Homo sapiens: one gene and its partner. The protein of the gene in region 2 interacts with the protein of the main gene of each other region in a biochemical or structural test. Each region holds a gene or a part of one and is shown on either strand. Other genes may lie near its edges.

Region 1 (3,832 bases), on a different chromosome or scaffold from region 2:
ACAACACACTTACCCTTCCTGGACAGGCGGTAGACAACTTGTGAAGTGACTGTGCCAGGTGAATTTTGGGGTTATTCACCATTTGACCTACAGGATCATGCTCTTTTTTCCCAGCAAATGCCAACTGTGAGAAGGCAGTCTGATATCCTGGTGTATCTTCTATGTCAATAAAATGTTCCTCATCAGGAATGGTATCATCTTCGGGTAACTCAAAAAGACCAATCAAAGACTGTAATAATGGAGTCCTGGATTGGAAGAAAGCAAGAGATAAAAAGGTCAAGAAAATACTCGGAAGACTTAAAACCAGCAATTGCTCAGAGACACAAAATTACAGACTCATAGTCTCAAGAATAAAAGGGGACCTTTGAAATTAAGATGGTTCTTTTCTTGGCTTATTCAGTTCTTCCCCTTAAAGATAAGTCAGTTTAGTTGGGCTTCTGTCATAAAATTGTCTTAGAGATCACCTAGATCAGACTCTTAAAGGGGTCCATGAATCCCCCTGAAAAAGAAGCAGGAAACAAGATCATTCTAAGCCCAGAAGGATCCAGAAATCATGTCTTGGATCTGATTGTGGAGAAGCTGAGATCAGACCAAGATTCTCTTGGCCCCCAAGAGAATAAGCTTTGTTAATTTTGCAGTCATATGGGAAGGAAGCTGTAACTTACAAAAATATTAAAATGAAGTACTTACCACAGTTTGGTATACTCAGTGTCCATCATTGGGGGACATTCTGTTAGTAATTTGGTTATGCCAACCGCACAGATCTTTTTCTCTACATTTCCAGATACCTTCTGAATTTCAGGAATAATAATTTTTTCCAAAACCATTCCAAACATTCTATTAAAGCAAAATAAATCAACTTAATATTAGATTATCACTATAATGAAATAGTAAAATGCTTAGATGTTAGTTACTTCTTATGAATATGATAAATTACTAAATAACAAGACTGCTGTTTTTGATCATCTGAAGAGACTGAAAGTCAAAACATAAAAAAACCCCATCACACCTCTACCCTGTAGCCAAATGCCATAATCTTTTTCTTTTCTTTTTTTTTTTGAGACGGAGTTTCGCTCTTGTTGCCCAGGCTGGAGTGGAACGGTGTGATCTCAGCTCACTACAACCTCCACCTCCTGGGTTCAAGCAATTTGCCTGCCTCAGCCCCCTGAGTAGGTGGGATTACAGGTGCCCACCACCACGCCCGGCAAATTTTTGTATTTTTAGTAGAGATGGGGTTTCATTGTGTTGGCCAGGCTGATCTCGAACTCCTGACCTCAGGTGATCCACCTGCCTCAGCCTCCCAAAGTGCTAGGATTACAGGCGTGAGCCACCATTCCTGGCCCTCTCTGCTTTTTTCTTTAAAAATTACACCTGGCCAGTCTCAAAAAAAAAAAAGAAAAAAAAAAAAAAAAGAGAGAGGAGCAAGGAGGGAAAAAAGGAATCATCCCACCACCCAGAAACAACTAGTTTTAACATTTTTGGGTTATAAGCTTCCCAACTGTCTTTGCTTACATACCTGCAGGTACATAAATGCTAATGGCTATTTAAAATAATTCGGCCAATCATTCTATGTTGTTGCAAACATGCTAGAAGTGAAGTTTTCCGTAATTCTAAATGATGCAAAATCCTCAGTTTATGCGTTAATAGAACCAATTCTTTGAAGTGGAAATATGGCTCAAAGGGTATGGCAATTCTAATGCTCTGGATAAAAAGTGCATACATTTTGCTCTCTAGAAAGATCAGGCTAATTCAGGCTCCCACTAGCAGTGCATGAGATTTCCTCAAAATCCCCTACTGCCGGAAGCCATGTTTTCTGGTCTCCTTTCCAGAGTAATTCATTTTTTAGTCAATGTAGAATTTTTGAGACATAACTGAGGTACAGGGATCTAACTGTCCCCGAAGAAATTTTCCCTAAGAGTTGTTCTTTATCTTATCGTTATAATTGTTTTATTCCCTACTAATGGGAAATGCCACCTAAATACATTCTTTGCATATATACCAGATAAGTCAAAAACAAAGTTAATTTATTGGTCCTAAGTATTTCTCATTTGAAAAATTCTGCTGTGTTTGCATTAGCAGCACATATACTAAAATTGGAACGATATGGATTAGCACGATTTTTTAAAAAAGGGGGAAGGAAAATTCTGGTTTTTTTTTTTAATTATACTTTAAGTTCTAGGGTACATGTGCACAACGTGCAGGTTTGTTACATATGTATACATGTGCCAAGTTGGTTTACTGCACCCATTAACTCGTCATTTACATTAGGTATTTCTGCTAATGCTATCCCTCCCTCTGCCCTCCCTTCCCCTGCCCCCCATCCCACGACAGGCCCCAGAGTGTGATGTTCCCCGCCCTGTGTCCAAGTGTTCTCATTGTTCAATTCCCACCTATGAGTGAGAACATGTGGTGTTTTCTGCTGTTAGTTTTAATAAGGCAGGCTCCTGGAGACAACACTGACCATTTAACATAATATAGAACACTGGCTGTGGAGAATGCCAGTGTGTAGAGTAGATGGTCCTCTAATCTAGAGGATTAGAACAATGATTCCAGGGTGTTTTTTCTTTTTTTGAGATGGAGTCTCACTATATTGCCCAGGCTGGTCTCAAACTCCTGAGCTAAATCCGCCCTCCTCAGCCTCTCAGAGTGTGGGATTACGGGCGTGAGCCACCATGCTGGGCCAGGATTACTTTTTCTTTACTCCCAATACCTAAGAATATTTTGAAAACCATAGACACTATCTCCATACCAAGAACCACATCATCATCTATAAGACAGAGATACTGATTTGTACTAAAAAAAAAGTCAAAACATTTTCTTCCTTTAAAAAATAATAAAAACAAACTTACTTTGGTTGTATACCATCAAATATTTCTTGTAGTGCTAGTGCCCCATATTTTATGCAATACAAATTAATAAAGACTAAAAAACCTGTTGAAAGAAGATGCAGAATATCAGCATAGAGAACTCACGCACTAAACTGGTAACTGATAAGTCTGCAAAATAAACCTATGCTTAATCATTAACATCCAAAGGCTGTGGCATCAATACCTGCCTTCTAGTAAATAGAAAACTTGTCTTTCTGTCATAGACCTTTACATGCTGTCTCTCTTTGATTTATATTTCCTTATAATATTCTCTCTACTGAAAAAATGTTTTGGTATCCAACCATAAACCAACCTCTGGAACACAATATGACTAACACTAACTTAATGTTTGGAGAACACAAACATCTTAAAATATTTTCTTTTTTCTTGTGAGAAGGTTTCACTCTATCACCTAGGCTGGGTGCAGGAGCGTGATCACAGCTCACGCAGCCTTAACTTCCCAGGGTCAAGTGATCCTCCCACCTCAGCCTCCTGAGTAGCTGGGGCTACAGGCACACACCACCATGCTTGGCTGTTTTGTAGAGACAGGGTCTTACCATGTTGCCCAGGCTGGTCGTTAACTCCTGGACTCAAGGAATACTCCCACTTTCACCTCCCAAAGTGCTGGGATTACAGATGAGAGCCACTGCACCAGGCCCTTACAATATTTTCTTTTTTTTTTTTGAGACAGGGTCTCACTCTGTCACCTAGGATGGAGTGCAGTGGGTGTAATCTTGGCTCACTGCAGCCTCAACCTCTGGGACTTAGGTGATGCTCCTACTTCAGCCTCCCAAGCAGCTGCGACTACAGGCACATGCCACCATGCCTGGCTAATTTTGTTGTACTTTTCGTAGGGACAGGGTTTCGCCATGTTGCCCAGGCTGGTCTTGAACTCCTGAGCTCAAGCGATCGGCCTCCCTTGGCCACCCAAAGTGCTGCGATTACAGGCATGAACCTCCACACGT
Region 2 (3,600 bases):
CTTTGTGTATTTGTTACTTACATATCTGGTCTATCTCTCTAAGCACTTATCAGCCTACTTACATATATGCTGTATCTCTCTAAACACTTAATCACCCTTTAGATATGGTTACTACATTGTGTTACATAATGTCTGTAGAATACAGCAAATTCTGAGAAAATAATTGCTTTTTGATTTGGATCTTATGATGACATCTATTTCATGGGAAGTCTTCAGAAAGAAGTATGGACCAGTGAATTTAACTTAATCCAGTATATCCAAAATACCATGCAACATCTAATTTGTGTAAAATAATTGAGACGTTTCATATTATTCCTTTCATACGTTCAAAATCCAGTTTGTATTTTACGGTTATGGCATACCTCCACTTGGACTAGCTGCATTTCAAGTGCTTAATAGCCACATGTGGTTAGTGGCTACCTTATTGGAACAGCCCATGTACAGAGTATAGCATTTAGGGAGAGGTAATTGTAGCATATTATGATCTAACAGTTTATTTGATTAGAAATGATGAAGAATACAGAGTCCTAGAGTTTAGTTTAATTTGATCTCTAACTTTGTGTATGACCTTGGGGAAAATCGCTTAGTCTTATGGTTCTTTCATCTGTAAAACTAGAGGTACTTGACATCTGCTTCATGAGTGTTGTGAAGATTAATAGGTAATGTTAGGAAGATGCCTGGCAATTCTCTGAGCGTTTTATCACCTTCAGCTTTTCTTTTTGGGGGAGGGAAGGGATTTAACAAGATTCAGTATAATTGATTCTCTTACTCCCTTATTTTCAGTGGCTGTTTTTTCTCTCTGCTTGTATAACTTGTTACATTGAACAAGTAATAGGGAAAGGTTTTAATACAGAGACATGTAGCTGCTCATTGAAGGGCAGTTTAGGCACACCAAATTAGTGATCCTTTTAAAGTTGTAATTTCTGAGTGTTAGAGTTGAAAGTTATTCATAGATTTCAATCTGATATTTGTTCCTACCTCTCTCTACCATTCTGACTCCTCTAAAATGTGGTCATGTTAAGTTTCTTGAAACACAAACGCACCAAAGAAGGCATATGTTCAGTATCCATTTAAAATAATTATCAGGAACTATCAGATGATATTCACCATGGCGTGGCTGCTTCTTACAGTGTTGTAGAAGATCCCCAGTCTTAGTTTGAGAATAGTAACCATAGAAAAGAGGGTATATACAGTGCAACACAGGAAATGGGTAGTGACCAAACTTGAAATAAAAAACTTGTCAGGATAAAGTAAATTAAGCTCATATAATTTATGTTTTTTAAAGTAGAGGGGAATTTTCTTGTAGATTTCCTAATAAACCTGCATACTTTTTATGAAAGTTCTGAGTGTCTAGGTTCAAATAGAGCATAAAATATAACTAGATCTTTTAAAAACACAACTTTAAGAAAACAACTTACCCTAAATATAAAAGAATATTAAAATGCTACATAATTAGAAACTTGTGATTATCCACACAAACATAAAATATGAAGTCAGCTTGAACTTTAAAAAAAGGTGCTTGGTTGGCAAGAGTTTAATAAATTGATCAGCTGTTTTGTTGTTTTGAAAGAGCCTCAGTGATTTGTTAAAGTGTACAGAGTGAAAAGCATTGTTAAGGTATTAAGTCTTGTTAACTTTTAGAGACTGATCTCTCTCACCACAAATCTTGGAACATATTTACTATACTTAAAATAACTACTGTCTAATTTTTCACATAATAGTCCAAGCATGTGACAATATGAAATATCTGATAGAAATATAGTTAGGAATTAAATGACTGTTTCTGTACTTCTTGCCAACTTTCCTGGTTTACAAGGTAGCCAGTTTGAGAATTGCTTCATTGATAGTTTTCCTGGAGATACCAAGATGCCCTTATTTTTCGTAGTCACTAAGTATGTCAAATGAATGTACAAGATTGGGAAGAATTGTAGGAGTGATTTAGATTTCAAAGAATGAAGCTACTTTAGAAAAAAAAATGCAAAGGTAGTTTTTAAACATTGATTTCTAATACCTGATAGTGGTTGTGGGTCCTTAAAATATTTTTAAATGTTTTCTGGAGTAGCATTCATCTATTTGAGGCCTATAATGATGAATGAAACAAGAGCATGTCATCAGATTTAACCTTGATCTCTGATTTTGGTACTTACTCGCTGATTTAGTTTTGGAACAGAAAAGAGGAATATGACTGAAGGGAACTTTCTGAGCACCTACTGTATATGCTTTTAACTGTATTCACATTTCTCTCAATCTTATACATATTGAATTTATTTTAAAGAAGAAATTTTAAAGAAGAAACTCTTGTGCTTTTGATTTAATAAGATAACATTTAAGGGAATGATTTTAATTCAGGTGTGTCAGAGTCTGTTCTTTTTGTACTTTACCATATTTCCTCCATTTGACTTCTTTCAGCCTTAATGCCAGTCTCAAATTTGATGAAAAGGTTCTATGTGAAAGCACTGAGCATAGTCCACGGGGTATAATAGGTATTCAGTAAATGTTTTCTTTTTTTCTCAGAGGGTTTTTGGAAATTGTGGGTCACTTGTAGACTTTCAAACACTAGAAAACACAGTTTGTTTTCTGTGCTTTTCATTTAGGTTTGGTAAAAGACAGGGTTGGAGTTCTTCCTTTTTCTGTGGTTAATATGAGAACTGTATATTGATATCTATAAAATAAGGACATTTTTCAAAACCAAAAATACATAATGAGAAGAATGGCCATGTTGAACCTTTTTTTCGGGTCTTAATGTTTGGCTTAAGACAGCTGAATTCTCATCTGTTTCTGCATTCAGTCTTTTGTGATACACTGTTTTGGTCGAAGTGTGTGAAGAATGTCCACCTTCACACAGACAGACAGTTGAAAAAGGAAAGTATGTTATGTTTTCATAGGCTTTTCAGGATAATTATGGAGATTAAGTGATACTACACCGTAATTCTGCAAGAGGTAGTTTCTTAAAGATAGTTGCAATGTAGAATCTGAAGCCACATGAGTGAACTTTTCTTACACTGTTACATTAAAATCTATTGGTCTGTCTTGCACTTCAGATGTAACATTTACCCATCTTTTACTGATGCTTTTTGTAATACCATGCATTGGATTATTTGGAAAACATTATGTCACTGAGTTATGCACGTCTTCCAAATGCTAACATATTTTATTCAATAAAAAATTCATGATTGTTAACCACACAATTCAGAAAAATCTTAAGTATTGAGAATCTGTCAGGTTCACAGAAGTGGATACAAGTTTTCTAAAATTCTAACTTTCTCTGGGAAGCTCAATTTTTTTTTCTTTTTTTACCATGCCTCTGGGACAAGTTCAGAGGAAGCTGAAATTTTATCATTAGCAATAAATGCTATAAATGGTTATCGTTGAAGCCATAGACTCACTTTGCTCATTTTTGTGAAAACATCTTCCAACCATTAAGTCTGAATAACCATAATTTGTCTGTCAGTCGTTTTTTCAAGTAAAAATAGTGTTCCATGAAAAAAGTGGCTAGGTCAGTTCACAACTCAGTTGCACAAGTACTTTTTCCTTGAGACAGTCGTCCTTAAGTAGAAGTTGGTATGCAGCAGAAGTGGCTTATATGTAATCTTCATTTTT

Evidence for each region.
Region 1: the proteins of KPNA4 (region 2) and CSE1L form a complex in vitro, tested with the Homo sapiens proteins (one study listed by BioGRID).

The regions. Positions count from the first base shown.
Region 1 is NC_000020.11:49,091,145-49,094,976, reverse strand, and holds part of CSE1L (exportin-2), read right to left. Parts: intron 2,932-3,832; coding exon 2,850-2,931; intron 838-2,849; coding exon 691-837; intron 246-690; coding exon 14-245; intron 1-13. UniProt on the Homo sapiens protein: Export receptor for importin-alpha. Mediates importin-alpha re-export from the nucleus to the cytoplasm after import substrates (cargos) have been released into the nucleoplasm.
Region 2 is NC_000003.12:160,558,972-160,562,571, reverse strand, and holds part of KPNA4 (importin subunit alpha-3), read left to right. Parts: intron 1-3,600. UniProt on the Homo sapiens protein: Functions in nuclear protein import as an adapter protein for nuclear receptor KPNB1. Binds specifically and directly to substrates containing either a simple or bipartite NLS motif.